Linked DNA regions of Homo sapiens: region 1 is linked to region 2. A link means that fine-mapping ties the variant in region 2 to the expression of a gene that starts in the linked region. Tissue or cell type: neutrophils. Region 2 holds a variant in brackets; the other region holds the start of a gene. All regions are shown on one strand. Distances are between the middles of the regions.

Region 1 (8,104 bases), 82 kb after region 2:
TGGCACAGAAGATGAAGCCCATTAATGGTTCAGACATATTAAATGGGTACAGAATAGACATAGAATATGTTTGCAATATAGAATCATTGCAAAGCAAAGAAAGGAAAGATCATTACACAGGTGATATTGCAACAACTGATGTCCCATACAGAAAACATTAAAATTAGATCCTTTCTTTAGGCCGTAAATAAAAATAAATTCCAAATAAATTAAAGACCTAATCATAAAAAATGCAACCACTTTAAAGTAAAAATAACTTTTTAAAATGCTTCTTAACACAGAAAAACCAAGCACACAAAAAGGAAAAGACCAATAAATGTGATTACATCACGCTGAAAGACTTCTCACAACAAAGGAAGCCACAAAGATAAAAGATAAGCAACATACTGAGAGAAGATATTTGGAACACATGAAACATACAAATAATTAATATCCAGAATACTACATAAAAGACCAATAATCAAATACAACTTGGGAGAAAGGTATATAAAATCAGAAATCTACAGAAAAGGAGAATGGGCTGTCTGATAATGCAGAGAAAGTAGTTATTCCTAGTAGTGATTAGGAACACACAAACTAAAATAAAAACTTTGAGATAAAATTTTATACCTCTCTAATTGTCAAGAATTGAGAAGTTGGGCAGTATCAAGTATTACTGAGTATGTAAGGAACAGATATGGCCACAACCCCCTGGTGGAGAGCAATTTGGCAATATCCAACAAAAGGAGAATTGACACGACATTTCCCCTGCCAGGGGTGTCTGCTAGAAAACCAGCTGCAGGTGGGTTCCAGGAGGTGGGGCGAGAGGGCTCATCGAAGCCTCAGCCATCAGGCTGCAAGTTAGAGACAACCTAAATTCTGACAGTATGGGAATGGATAAATAATCAGATAAATGGCAGTGTTTCTGTGGAAACTTGTAGAGTAGTTGGGATGAATGCATTTGACCCATATTATCAGAACGGGTAGATAATGCAACGTGTTCAGTATGCTATGGCGGATTCCTGCAGTTTTTAACAGCTGCAAAGTAACCCAGGAAGGAAGCACAGCCAACCCTGGGGTGCCTCTCCCTCTGGGGAGGGAGGAAAACAAGAGGAGGAAGAGAGCCAAACTCCACCTCTTATGTTCTGTTTCTCTGATGGATACATTGATTTAGCTACCTACCTTTAAATATATATCTAGAAAAAAATTTAACATTTGGTAATTCAGAGTGTTGGCTCCATAAATGTCTGTTCCATTAATCTCAGTGTTTGAAAATATTTAAAGAATATTCAAATACTGTTTCTTTAAAAACTTTCTACCTACTCTGTGTGTGGGAAAGACTGGCCTGGCTTCTCATCCCAGGGTCCCCCGGTCATACTTGGGATCCTGGATGCCACAGAGGGACTGGACAGAGAGTGCCCCCATAGCCCCCAAGTCCCCTGAGGTACAGTTCTCATACACCCTGGGTGACTGGCCTGGTCACCCACCCTCACAGACCCCCATCTGCCAGTAGATTGCACTAAACAGTGCTCTAGGCCCCTTTCTCCAGTCAATAAAGGGGAAGCCCAACGTTTCCTTCATTTGCTTTCAACAGGCTGTCATATTCGCTTTTTGTTCACAAACATTTACTTACTGGAATTAACAACATATACAATCATTATGAAAAATGCCAATACAGAGAAATTAAGATGCTGTATAATTCTTTTTCCTAAGAAGATAAAGGATAGCCGGGCACGGTGGCTCACGCCTGTAATCCCAGCACTTTTGGAGGCCGAGGTGGGCGGAACACCTGAGGTCAGGAGTTCAAGACCAGCTTGGCCAACATGGAGAAGCCGCATCTCTACTAAAAATACAAAATTAGCCAGGTGCGGGGGCATGTGCCTGTAATCCCAGCTACTCGGGAGGCTGAGGCAGGTGAATTGCTTGAACCCAGGAGGTGGAGGTTGCGGTGAGCCGAGATCGCGCCATTGCACTCCAGCCTGGGCAACAAGAGCAAAATTCCATCTCAAGAAGAAGAAGGAGGAGGAGGAAGAGGAGGAGGAGGAGGAAGAAGAAGAAGAAGAAAAAGAAGAAGAAGAAGAGGAAGAAGAAGAAGAGGAAGAAGAAGAAGAAGAAGAAGAAGAAGAAGAAGAAGAAGAGGAAGAAGAAGAAAAAGAGGAAGAAGAAGGAGACTAAACACATGCAAAATATTACTACGGAACTCTAACCTGTAACTATCACTTCATCACTTCTGTTTCATCCGTGTCAGCTCATAGAAAGGCATGTCTTTCAACTAAATATATTGGATATTGTTGGAAATACTAAAGCATAATTAACTTAGTCAAATTCCTACTGATAGTCTCTTGTTTCTGGTTCCCACCGTGGTTTCGGCAGTGTTGAATAATACCCTGTGAAATATTTTGGGAGGGTTTTACCATATTATTTCATCAGGTTATATTCCTGGAGGTGGAATTTCTGGGTGAAGGGTTATGAACATCTTACATTTCGCTTACATTGACACCCAGATTTTGCCAAATTGCCCTCTGGAGAGAGTGAATAAATGAGTCCCCTCATATCCAATAGTGAGTGCTCACCACTTATCACATCCCATGCTAAGTGCTTTAAATGTGGTAACAGATTTCATTTTCCCAATAGTCCTGTGAGGTGTCCCCAACTTACAGATGAGAAAACTGGGCACAGAGAGGATTAATTCTTTGTCCAAGTTTTCCAGGCTGGTAAACAACAGAACAGGGATGAACATTTAAGGAGTCTCGTACTGGATACCCACTCCTAACCACTGTGTACCTCTATCAATAGTATATGAAAGCAGAAACGAGCTGTGATGCCTTGGCCCAGTGATTAAAACCTTATCTATAACATGCAGGTAATTGTGGCACCTATTGCACAGAGTTGCTGTGGGAACCAAATGAGCTCATGTAACATCTTCAGCAGAGCACCCAGCACATCGACACACTAAAAAATGCGAGGAGGTGTTAGATCTTTTATTATTTGTGAGACTGGACATTTTAAAGTTTTATTGTCTGTGATTCTTCAATGAATTGCCTGTTTATATAATTTGCACATTTTTCATTGGATTTCTTAAATTTAACTTCCTTTTTTTGTACCAGGACAGACTAGTTTGTTTATCTAGGTAAGTCAAAAGCAGAAATAAGGGTTACAACTTCTCTTACCTTCCACCACGTCTCTGGGCAGGCACACTGCATCTAACCACCGTGCACACCCTTAATCGCTGCTTGCTGGTGCCTGACATCCCTTCACAGTCACTGCCAACGGCCCGTTTCCATGTGTAAACTGATGGATGATGTGGCTGGCTGTCTGTCTGACATGCTGACTCCCAAGGCCAAAGTCTTTGCTCTCCCCTGCTTAGTGCAGACTTTAGATGGAAACCTGCCCACAGCACTAACTTTGCCCGCATTCAGGATACAACCTATTGGTCTGGAGACACAAGATTTAATCTGGAGACAGACTGCTTCCCATTGAGTCTCGGCCCAGTGCAAGTTCTGGGAAGGAACGTCTTTGTATATATGAGGGACGTATGCTGCCTTTTTAGGAAACAACAGTTGATATCAGAGGGGACTTCGTAAAGGCATGTGTCTCTCTCCATCTCTGTCTCCATCTATGCATATTTCTAACCATCTCTCTATGTCTCTGTCTGTCTCTCTCTCTCTCTCTTTGAGTTTCTTCCTCTCTGTCTACTTCTCTGACTTTATATTTCTCTCCTCCATTTGGCCCTACTTTGTTTTAGTCTTTGCCTCTCTCCTTTCTTCCTTCTTTCAAGGAATGCATTAAAGATAATTTTTAAAAACAAAGATACCTCTGAGTAGCAAAGAGTCTGCTTCACTGCATGAGAATTCTGATTCAACATTAAATGTATACCAGTATCTACATGCCTACATGTTCTCATTCTATGTCAGTATTTTGATTTGACTTAATTAAATTTAACTTAACTCTCTTGAAATCCCAAAAAGTAAACATGATTATCTCCCATCTCATTGGTTCAGAAAGTTAGGGAGTTTCAGAAGCTTATTCTAGTTTATCAGCAATGGAGCCACAGTTTACACCCAGATGTTTCTAGATCCCAAGCCCGAAGCTCCTTCTGCCATGACCCTTCCTATTCTCCTTTAGCCCAGAAGCATTTGTAAGTTGCAGCTGGAATGAGACAAACAAGATCATTGCTCACTACCAGATCAAAGTGAGAAACATCATCTGTGTAAAGGGACAGAGTTATGTTTTAGGGATCAAGCCCCAGTGGGCTAAGGCTCCCCCAGTTTCCTGCCCACTGAGGCTCCCCCGGGCCAGAGACCCCCGCAGTCCCCACTTACCCAGGAGGAAGAGGATCCTCAGCATGCTGACCCCCAAGTTCATGCTGGCGCTCTGCTCTTGGCTCCTGGCTCCTGGCTGCTGGCAGCGCAGGCACAATGAGCCATGTGACCCAAGGCTCTGGGGACAGGACAAGACCCACGTGACTGATGGGGAAGGAAACCACTGTCACAGCCAGGAGGCTGTTCAGTTCCTCTCAGCCTCTCTGAAGACAGGGCTGAAGGAAGCCCCTGTCATTCTGGACTCCACCAGAAGCTGGCTGTGATTAGACCCATTGTACATGCTGGGGTATTATACCCAGTGTTCTCTCCTATAATCTTCCCCACAGAGTGTGGGAACAAAGCTCGGTAAGGTGCGGTTTCTTGCCTAATGACCCATGCTAGTAAGTCTCAGAGAGGAATGTGGGCAAAGCCGGTCTGCCCTGCAGTCCAGCCCTTGCAGTAGCCTCTGCCTTGGAGCAGAAATAGGAAATGCCCCTCCAGCCAATAGTCCAGCTCGGTCACTGTTTTTGTGCCATGGGAGCCTCTGAGTCTAGGAATGCCTATCACTCTCTTCTCAGAATAAGATTTTTAAATCCCCAAACTAAAATAGATAAGGATCATAGTAGAAATCAGTAGTATTAACACACAGTTATCAAAATATTTTGTTAAACTTGTGAAGTAGAAATATACATGCTTATTTATCCACACAGTAAATAGCAAGATCTGGCAGCAGATGAAACAGCTACCACCATCTCGACATGGTGATAAATGGAATCGATATTGAGAGATACCTGTAACAGCTGGAATGTGGATGGAAAGACCTGTGATTCCTACCAGAAATAAAGTTACTGGGTGGTAATGTTTCTGTGGTTCGTTTGCCACACTACTATTAGAAGAAGATGCTAAGTGTTCCTTAGAGGTTAGAGAACAGAGATGTAATTTTTTTCCCATCCAAGTTTACAGGCCCCATGTCCAGGTCCTTAGCCTGGAGGAACTTTGGTAGTCACACAGGCTCAGCCAGCAGGCTGAAGGCCTTATGCTCCTGTACTCCTTTATACCTGCACGTTGTCACAATGCTTAGATGTTCAGCCAAAAACCCAAATGTGCAGGAAATGTCACTTTTTAAAATATAAATCAACTTAATGACAAGTCTTGAGTCCCCCACCCAACTGAGCTGGCAGAAATCGAGCTCTTTTCATTCTTGGGCTCCCTCAGTCAAATCCCTAACGGTAGCAGCCAACACCGTGAGCACTTGCTACTGAGCCCAATGCCATCTTAGCATGCAACCTGTCCAAGTCCACGCAGCAGTAAATGTGAGAGCTGGACTCGAAACCCAGGCCTTTGGCTGGCAGCCTATGCCCCTCAGGCTGCATGTGCCCTCTGTGTACAGGTACCATCCCCTGCCAAGGTCCAGCCAGAGGCAGTCCGATTGCCCTGGTGCCACAGATGCCCCCTGGGTTCTTCTGCATGGCTGCTGTGGCTCCTTCTGAGTTTCACATAAATAATGGACATGAGAGGAGAAGGCTGGTCATGAGAGAAGCAATTGGCTTCATCTGGGTGCCTTCAAGTTCCATCTGTCCACACTTTATTCATTTGATGAAATTAAGATCAGTTTCTACCTGCACCAAGAAACATACTCTCTTATTTCTCCTGGAATATGTGGAGTTTTCTTAATTTTGCCCCAGTTCATGGGAACATGTGTAAGAAAAATATTTCACTTTCCTCTAAGTGTATTGAAAGAAAATGCCAGTGCAGACCTGACAATCTGTAGACAGTGGCTGGGGACGGTGGAGCTACATTCAGGCCAGGCCCAGGGCTTCCAGCCACACCAGGCAGTTCTGTTTTTATATGAAATCAATAAGTTTCAAATGTCGGCAACTGATTTCAAAATACTTTCGCATGGGATGAGTCAACCTAAACACCAGCATGAACTTCTGCTCCCAAACACCTCTCCAAACATCCTTGGGAGCTCGACCTGTCCTACATACTCCCAGGAGGGGAAGCATCTGCAGCTACTTCTGCTTTCACTCTGCCGTAGCCTCCGAGTCTGGAAAATGCAGTCTGCTCCCTGCTTAGACAGGCAGAGGCTCAAAACGCCCCGTAAACTAGAATCTCACGAGATGCCCTGGCACCCAGCCACGGCACCTTGGCAAGATGGTGTGTGTCTTGTTGGCGTGGCACAATGCACCCAGAAGAGCGGATGCCCCACCCTGTACCCCTGTAATGAACGCCCAGTTCTGACCGTGAGGCTGCTCCTGGCACTGGCTCACACTGGCCCAGGAGCTTGTGAGGGCAGGGCCCAGGGCACCTGGCCTAGCACCTGACACAGTGCAGGCTCCTAGCGGTGTTTGTTGAATGAAGAATTCAATTCACCCCATCTATTTGGGAGGCTGAGGCAGGAGAATCGCCTGAACCCGGGAGGCAGAGGTTGCAGTGAGCCGAGATTGCGCCACTGCACTCCAGCCTGGGCGACAAGAGTGAAACTCTGTCTCAAAAAAAAAAAAAAAAAAGAAGTCGTTTCACTTTCTTATCTCATGCTCAGCCGGCCTAGCCTCCAGCCCACCTGGCAGGAATATTTTCCAGGTCATCTAGGTGAGGAAGGTCACTGCACTGACAAGCAGAAAAGAATGAGCCCCACTCCGGCAGCTCTGACATCCTGCCCCTCACTCGGATGTGGGGCCTCTTCCAAGGCCACCAAGCCTGGGACTCTTCTGTCCTTAGCACTGCACCCTCAGGACCAGCCAGGGAGCTCGTAGAATTCATGTCTCATGTGAACGCCTTTAGTGCAAGTCACAAAAAACTGCCAAACACCATCATTACGCATCAGATTTTTACAAATTTAAAGATAGGGAGGATTCAGCACGCAGATTTGTTTATTGGCCTTACATAGAACTGTGCACCCAACAATTAGAAAATAGCCATTCAATTCAGCATGCATGCAACATTTATACCCCAAAACGGTCTCACACTGGGCCATAATACAAGTCTCAAAAATTTCAAAGAAAAGGTGACATATAGACCATATTTTCTTACCACAAGGTAATTGAATTAAACGACAGTAACAAAAATACATGATAGAAATTTCCATTGGTTTGGAAATTTTAAAACATTTCTAAGTAACTCATAGATCAAAGAAAAAATTACAGTGAAAATTACAAATAGCTGGAACTGAATGATAATGAAAATGTTGCACATGTGATTTTGCAGAATGCAAGCCGGGTAATAATTAAAAGGAAATGCATAGATGTAAATACTTAGAAAAGAAGAACTGAAAAAGGAATGAGATAAGCAACCAGTCAGAGAAGTTTGAAAAAATTATAAGCCCAGAAAAAAGGCAGAAGAAAGGAAGCAATAAATATGAGAGCAAAAATGAATGAACCAGAAGCAAGCAAAGATACAATGGGGAGGATAAACACATCTTAAAAGTTTTTTCTGAAAAAACTAATAATATGAAAAATTCCTCACAGAATGGATTTAAAAAGAGAGAAGACAAAAATAAATAATATTAAGAATAAATAAGTCCAAAAAGGTAGCAATAATGGCATTATTTGCAATCTTATGCCAATGAATTTGAAAACTTTGATGAAATGGACACAATCTCAGGAAAGTGTAACTTACTGAAATGTGCTAGACAAAAACAGCAAGACAGAAAGGTCCTGATGCCTTTCAAAAGATTGAATCAAATAGTTAAAAATCTTGCCACAAAGAAAATATCATTCCAAACTATTTTACAGAATTTTACAAAAATTTTAGAAACTTTAAGGACTAGGAAATTACAATATTAACAAACTAGTTCAGATAATAGAAATAAAATGAGTATTTTC
Region 2 (8,104 bases):
ATTATTGACAATGATTATCTCTGGGGATGGGAGTGGAACTGGGGATATTAGGTAGTGGGTAGGAGAAAGATATTTGCGCATTTTAGTTTTTGCATTGTTTGACTCTTTTTTGTTTTTTGTTTTTTTTTTTGAGAGCGGAGTGCTGGAGTGCAGTGGCGGGATCTTGGCTCACTGCAGCCTTTGCCTCCTGGGTTTAAGCAATTCTTCATCTCAGCCTCCCGAGTAGCTGGGATTACAGGTGCACACCACCACACCTGGCTAATTTTTGTATTTTTGTAGAGATGGGGTTTCACCATGTTGGCCAGGCTGGTCTTGAACTCTTGACTTCGTGATCCACCCACCTCGGCCTCCCAAAGTGCTGGGATTACAGGCGTAAGCCACCATGCCTGGCCAACTCTTTTATGTATAATATTTTTGACATCATCACTGTGCCACAGCAGCTTGAAAAACAACGGCATGACCACATAATGTTGTGTCTACAGTGCTAAAAACAGAAGCTACAAGATGTTGCCAGTGGGAGAGCACTCCATGGGCTGGCATGCCCAAAGAAGGCATTGATGGAAGATGAAAGCTGGATGTGGAGCCCCAAAAAATATGTATGATTGAAATAGGTCAAGGGAAAGAGAGGTAAGGCATCCCAGAGAGGGTGACTACATCCACCAAGTCACGCCTACTTCAAAGTCATCCACAGCAACAGTTGCTAATGACACTTGACAAAGAACATTTTATTCATTCATCAAGTATCTATTGAGGATCAACTGTGTACCAGGCACTGTTGCAGGCATTCATTGTTATCATCATCATCCTCAAAAAGTATATGATTGTGTTAGTCTGGGATCCCAGAGAAACAGAACGAACACACCCAGAAATAATGTTTTACCTGCTATCTGGGCATCGTTTAGCCTAGTCAAGTCAACACATAAAATTAACCAACACTCTTATGTAGACCAATCCGTGGGGAAAAGGCATTTTCAATGCTGGTGGTAATATAAATTTGTAAACTATTTTAGAGGTCAATTCACTTCTTGAAATTGTGTCCATTTTTAATTTGGGTAGATCTTTGGACCCGGCAATCTTATTTCCAGGATTTTATGCTAAGGTCAGGGATATTCATGGAGATTTATTGACAAAGATTTACAGCAGCTTCAAATGTCCAGTAACAATAAGCAGGAAGCTAAATTGAGGTCCACCTGCATGATGGAACATTATTCCATCATTAACATTATGTTTTTGAGGCATATTTAACAAGGGAAAATGTGCACACTATTTAGTAATATCAGAAAAGCGAGTCACAGAACACTCTTTACAGTAAGATTGAAATTAGGTTTTAAATTTTAATTTGCATAAAATGACAGGAAGGATTTGCACTGAAATGTTAAGTTGAGTAGAGATATGGTAAGTCATTTTTATTTTCTTCTTTAAACCCTTTCAGTATTTTTCCATGTTTTCTATAATTGAACTATATTACACTATATTACTTTTGCAATAGAAAACAACCAACATATGGAAATCAGGACAGATAATAAGAGCCAACACTCCTATGGCTCTTCTCAGAACTGGGAGTTATTTTTTAAATATATCATCGCAAGTCACCCTCCATGTGCTGGGCGAGGTGTTCATGACAGGGAAATGAGGAGAGACCAGGCACCAGCCTTTCTTTCTGGGAGTTTCCAGTGAAAGACAAGCAATTTTATCTCACATCAAGAACTCTGCAGGAAGGAGGCCATGGTTAAGTCTGCGGTGAAGGGCAAAGAGTGAGGTAGTATTACAAGGGAAATCCCAAGAAAAGCTCCCCTCTCCACTGGATGGCTGGAGACTCCTGTTGAAAGGAGGGAGGTGACATGAGCAGGTTAGACAAGAGAGACCACGGGCCTGGGGTGGGGGGCACTCAAACCCCCAAGAGCTCCTGTTTGATATTCTAACCCAAAGGTACGGACCACAGAACTTCTCATCCTTGTTGTTCTGTGTTTTTGTTTTCCATTTAAGGTGGCTCACACCTGTAATCTCAGCACTTTGGGAGGCCGAGGTGGGTGGATCACCTGAGGTCACAAGTTCAAGACCAGCCTGGCCAACATGGAGAAACCCTACCTCTACTAAAAATACAAAAATGAGCTGGGTGTGGTGGCGCATAGCTGTAATCCCAGCTACTCAGGAGACTGAGACAGGAGAATTGCTTGAACCCAGGAGGCAAAGGCTGCAGTGAGCCAAGATCACACCACTGCACTCCAGCCTGGGAGACAGAGCAAGGAGACTCTGTCTCAAAAACAACAACAACAACTATGAACATGAGGTGGAAATTTAGGAAAATAAGGCCGTTGGAGAGGAGCAAGGCCCAGGACACCGGGAAAGGTGCTCTGGGAGGCTGCAGCCATGCGCCTCTCCTGGCCCTGCCCAGGAAGAACAGGCAGCCAAGGCTCTGCACAGCCCCAGCCTGGGGCGGACAAGCTCCAACCCAAACAGCCTGCCTGGTTTCAGGCCATTTGCTTGGGGTTGCTTTTCCTTAACTGCCTTGGAACAGTCCCCTGGAAGCCTAAATAGAATGTTCTAGAAGATATGGTCATTGCTTCCTAAGGTTTTGAATCTTTCCATCAGCAAATCATGGCCCTGCCCAGGAGCTGAGATGGAGCAGACATGGCAAGGGAGGCTGAGCTCCGCTGAGAGGGTAGAACCACTTCTGGGTGAGAGGTCAGAGGGGAGTGGGCGAGAGAAGTGGAGAGACACAGAGAGATAGAGAGATACAGAGAGAGAGACACACAGAGAGATAGAGAGATACAGAGGGAGAGAGACACAGAGAGAGAGAGAGGGACAGAGACACACACGGAGAGAGAAAGAGACAGAGATACAAAGAGAGAGAGAGACACAGAGAGAGAGAGAAGGAAAGACAGAGAAACAGTGAGAGAAAGACACAGAGGGAGAGAGACAGAGAGACACAGAGGGAGACAGAGACACAGAGAGACAGAGAGAGAGACAGAGAGATACAGAGGGAGAGAGACCAGAGAGACAGAGGGAGACAGAGAGAGAGGGAGAGACAGAGACACAGAGAGAGACAGACACAGAGGGAGAGAGAGACAGAGAGAGATGGAAAGACAGAGAGAGACAGAGAGAGACCAAAAGACAAAGAGAGAGACAGAAGGAGAAAGAGACAGAGAGAGAGAGGGAGAGACAGAGAGA[C/CAG]AGAGAGAGAGAGAGAGAGAGAGACAGAGAGGGAAAGAGATAGAAAGCCAGAAACAGAGAGACAGAGAGAGACGAAGAGACACAGAGGGAGGAAGAGACAGAGAAAGAGAGAGAGACGGGGGGGGGAGAGACAGAGAGAGATATACCAAGAGACAGAGAGAGAGAGAGACAGAAAGAGAGAGAAAGAGGGAGAGGCAGAGAGAGAAAGAGTGACAGACAGAGAGAGAGGAAAGACGAAGAAGAAAAGAGGCGGGGAGTGAAGGGAAGGGGAGCTGAGGAGGGGAAGGAAGAGAAACCAGAGGACCAGGGCAGGAAAGTGGGGGAGCAAGAGAAGAAGTGGGGAAAGATTCTTATTTCCAGTGAGGTGTTAAAAACTACCTCATGTTTTTGGAGCAAGTTCCCAAACAAATGTTCTAGACTGAACCCAGCTTCACTCACTGAAATGAGATTCACGTTAACCAACAAGCTAAATGACTCTGCTTACTTGAAGGTAGCAAAGCTTTTATATGCTTTATTTGGCAGAATGTCATCACTGCCAAGATATTTCGTCTGTGACTCCAGAATACACTGTGACACAAACACCAAAAACAACACAATTCACACATACACACGTATCATATGTGTGTGTGTATATATATATATATATCTTGTGTGTATATATATATGTATGTATATATCTTGTATATATAAAAGATCTTGTGTTTCACAGCCAAGTGGTATTTGCAGTGGGTTCTTGGCCCAGCCCTTGATGATCTGATGTCTTGTTTTCTATGTGAAAATAATAAGCCAATAGTCATTGGTTTTCTTGAATTAATTTGCTTAAGGAGAAAAATTGCACATTCTATTTAATACCTCATTCTGTACTTATAAACATTACAACAAGCAAACTCCAAAGACAAGTAAAATTGAACTACTGTAAAGACTCTGTATATAAATTATTTTACTCTATGTCCCTTATTCATATAGGACATTAAAAATACTTTTCACAACTAAGTTTTGTCCTTTAAAAAGGCTTGTCAAAACAACATCACTAAGGACTTGAGTATTTTGTTATATGTGTACAATAAAATTAGACCCTTTTTTGTATTTGAGACTATCAGCTGTACTTTGTGATCCTCTTGATCTTGTGCCAAACTAAATTCAATTTCAAAGCAATCAAAGGCAAAATTTAGTGCATAATAGGAAGTCTTACTAAAATTGTGAGAGGTGTCTTCCCGAATAGAAACATTGGTGATAAAAAAATGACAACCCCAAAATATGGCACTTGGTAGCTGAGATGTTGCAGAAATGCTGTCCATCCCTCCTATCTGTCTTCAGGAAGGGAGGGCTACCCCTGGTCCTCTGCCCACTTCCTCATGAATTTCTTGGCGAGCTGTTGCCTAAGTTTGGATCAGTTCCACTGGGCAACCAGCCTGCCCTGCTCCCAGGCCTGACGACTCACAGCAAAACCTCCCAACGCGTGCCTCCTCCATGGGTGCCCGGCACCCCCCAGCCAAAGCCATCAAGCCTGCACAGACCTGGGTGGGAGGCTGAGCACTGACAAACATGCTCTCCTTAGCCAAACTCCAGCCGGGCTCCTCAGAGCCCCTTCTCGACTAAGCCTCAGTCTTGGCCTAAAGACTCCAACAAACACTAACATAGTTTCTAATGGCTCAAGGCCACATGCCTATGCCTACGATGACCTCCTGAAAGTGCCTGCCTGAGAAAACTCAAGGCTGCCAAAAGCATTTACTGCTTGTTCCAGCCAACACCTGAAGACAAAACCCCCATCTCCCCATCTCTGTGGGAAGGTAGAAACCAAACTTCAAACTTCGATAAGCATCTTAGCAAACCCAGATGGCTCCACATAAGCCAAACCTCTCCCTACTGCTTTTTGCAATTTTCACACTTCTTTGACTCTACTGAGTCCCCACTCACCCCCACTCACTCATTCTCCTTTTAAAACAACCAGTCATGTCTGCACAAATCAGAGTTGAGTCCAGTTCATGCCAGGCTCTCTTCTCTACTGCAATAGCTACTGCTGAATAAAATCTGCCCTGACCCCTTTGACCAGGGTCCAGCTTTGTTTACCTTTGACAGCACACAGCAGTCCAACTTCAGACACATAAGAGGCTTTGCCCAGAGATTGGGCTGGGCCATGTTGGGGCAGGCACTTGGTCCTTTCTGTTCTCACTTCTGTGTCTACACAGCACATTAGCCAGTGTCCAGGTAAAGATCTACCCTCACCCCATGGCATGACTCATGTCTGTGACCAACAGAGGCCCACAAGATATGTTCTAGTGCAACACAGCCAACCCGGGAGCCCCTGGGTGGTGGCTGCAAAGGGGGGCCTACTGGCCTGCCCCACCACCACCTCTACCCAGGGAGACCAAGACCCTCACCTCTCATTTCCGTGGCTGAGGAGCCATTGGACCAGGCCGTCCACTTGTTCCTGTGCCTGCTGATTTCCTGGACTCTGCAGACGTAATGCCCTTGATCGGAGGGCTGCAGTGTCAAGACGGAGAGCCTGTAGAGCGCCCCCCGCTGCTCCTCCAGCAGGCGCAGCCTCCGCCGTTTGGCGCTGCGGCTGAAATTCCCATAGTACTGCACCACCCGGAGCTTGGTCATCTTCACCATCAAGGCCTCCTGGGAGTCGAAGGAGTGTGCAAAGAACCAGCGCACGGCCAGCAAGCTGTCCTTCCGCCTTTTCTGGGAGACGTGGCAGAGGAGAGTGGCATTCTCCCCCTCCAGGTAGTCAACCACGGGCCCCGGGGACACAGTGACATTGAGGGCCGCACAGACCTCTGCAGAGAAAAAGGGGAGAAGAGAGGATGAGGAGGGCCCCAAGTCCCCCTGTGGGCAGTCCACAGTCGAGGAGCCAGGAAATGCCTCCACGCACTGGGCATCCTAGTGCTCTGCCTGGCCAGAGAAGCAGGCGGCCCCTCACCTCTCCAGAGGAGGGGTTCTTCTGGGGGTGAGCCTCTGTGGGCCCCCACTGTCTCATCTATGGGACCACCCTGTCCATGTGGGATGCTAAACAATGACCTCCTGACCCAGAAGTATTTTTCAAAATTTTGTAATTAGTTGCTGACGTTTAAAATTCAAATTTCATGTAAAAGATTTAGATTTTTGGAATTTCTTAAAAATGTCTAGCCCACATCCAACCCCCCACCACTCCCCACACCTCACCACCTGGCCCCTGCCCCTCCCCAAGGCCTACTTTTATCAGTTTTGTCCCTGGCCTGATGTCAGCTGTGCTGTGGGTGGGGAGCCGCCCTGGAGCAGGGCAGGGTAGGGCCCTCTCTCTGGTGGCCTGTCCACCAGGAAGCTGGGCCCCTTTCCCTGACTCCGCTATTTCAACTGTACCCAGGGCAGATGAGTAGTAAGGTCGGATGTGAGCTGGGACAACAGGGGTTGCTTGGTTTCCTATTTGTAGGATCCATCGTCTCAGAGTTGAAGAGCAAGAATAAAGAATGATTAAACCCCAGGAAGAGGAGGGATGAGAGACTCTCCCAACAACCCAAAAGACACTTTGGAATTCCAGGCCCCATCCACAACTTCCTGTCCTTTGGTTCCTTAGTTAAAACCAGCCCGAGGGCTGCCCACTCCCAGCCACTGTTCTGCCCCTGAGCTGACCTGTGATGGAGCCACCCCAGCGCCCACTCCACCACCCAGACCAGTAGACCTCAGAGAGGCCGACTGCTGAAGTCTTCTCCCAGGAGCCACGATTCATGGTGTACCCTGGACTGCCCAGTGCGACCAGGCTGCCCGGTGCTCACAGCACAGCCCTCTGGCAGGCAGGGCCCGAGAAAAGATGCTTTGCACAGGATGCCTGGAACCTCTTTCTGCCAAGTCAGGGCTGTCTTCTCACCAGGTTCCATGTCCCCACCCCTGTACTGCCCCATGTATCACTCCAGGAAGCCATTCGCCTCCACCCCCCCACACAAGCAGGTGTCCCCATGGTCATCCCAAAGCACAGCTTTCAGTCCCAAAATGCCACCATCTGGTAACAGAAGAGGGCTTGGGCCCCAGATGTCACAGCCACCAAAACCTTTGACCCCTGGGCAGTGCTGCAGGGAAGCAAGGAGGAAAGTGGAAAAACAGATCAAGCAAGATCTGAACATTTGACAAGGAGGCTGTGGAGCAGCAAGCAGGCGGCCCTGCGGTGGGCTGGGGGAGGGATGGTAGATACAAACTATTCTTCATTGTAAAAATCCAGGCAACAGGTCTTCCTCCTATACAGTTTCCACTATTGATTTAATAACTGAACACCTCAAGACAGATGATTTCAGGATCATTTTTCCTTAATTTTCTTTCTCATCTCTCAGAAGACAAGCACTAGCCCACAGGATATTCAAGGGTAATTCCATGAGCCTTGACTTCATCACACCCATAAAGTCCCTTTTGTCATATAACGTTCCATTCACAGGTCCCCAGGGATTAAAACACCAAAGTCTTTGATATATATGGAAGTGAGCTCAGAAGAAAAAGGGTTAAGGCTCAGCTGGACTCTCCGCTGGATGGGTATGAGGTCTTCTATGCCTACAGTGATGCGGGAGATACTTAGGGCTGCAGACTAATGTGTAGCCAAAGGAGGGACCCACTCTGGTAGCAATCCCGCTGTCATCAGAAGCCCCTCCTGCAAGGCAAATGAAGAGGAATTGGCCCCACAATTCCCCCTGCATCTCGCCCACCTGGCAGGCACCTGGCCCATGGGCCATGTTAAATTAGTCAGAAGACATTTCTTCCTCACTGCTGAAGCCCTGTGTGAAGTCCACACAGCTCCCACGGCAGGAGCTCCCTGGTGAGGAATGCAGCAGCTGGGGGACACTGGCTGACCCAGCTCCAACAGCTGCTGGGGTTGGGCAGCCACAGAGAGCAGCAACGATGCAGCAGCTGGCTTCCAGAACTGAAGTCCAGCCCCACCCCGCCCTCAAGAGCTTCCCAGTGGAGG

Evidence for each region. PIP is the estimated chance that this variant, and not a neighbour inherited with it, causes the effect.
Region 1: TMEM273 starts here. The variant in region 2 is fine-mapped to the expression of TMEM273 in neutrophils (BLUEPRINT, PIP 0.95).

Annotation. Positions count from the first base shown.
Region 1 is chr10:49,183,993-49,192,096 of GRCh38, forward strand. It overlaps TMEM273 (transmembrane protein 273), which reads right to left and starts at 4,399. Exons shown (of 7, transcript NM_001288740.3): 1 at 4,302-4,399. The coding sequence starts at 4,344. RefSeq lists enhancers at 6,228-6,387, 6,848-7,067.
Region 2 is chr10:49,102,042-49,110,145 of GRCh38, forward strand. VSTM4 (V-set and transmembrane domain containing 4) reads right to left here. Exons shown (of 8, transcript NM_001031746.5): 2 at 5,553-5,954. Among named protein-coding and RNA genes, the nearest start is that of VSTM4, 9.4 kb to the right of the region's middle. RefSeq lists an enhancer at 6,487-7,465. The variant C/CAG (reference allele first, on the strand shown) is at 3,172.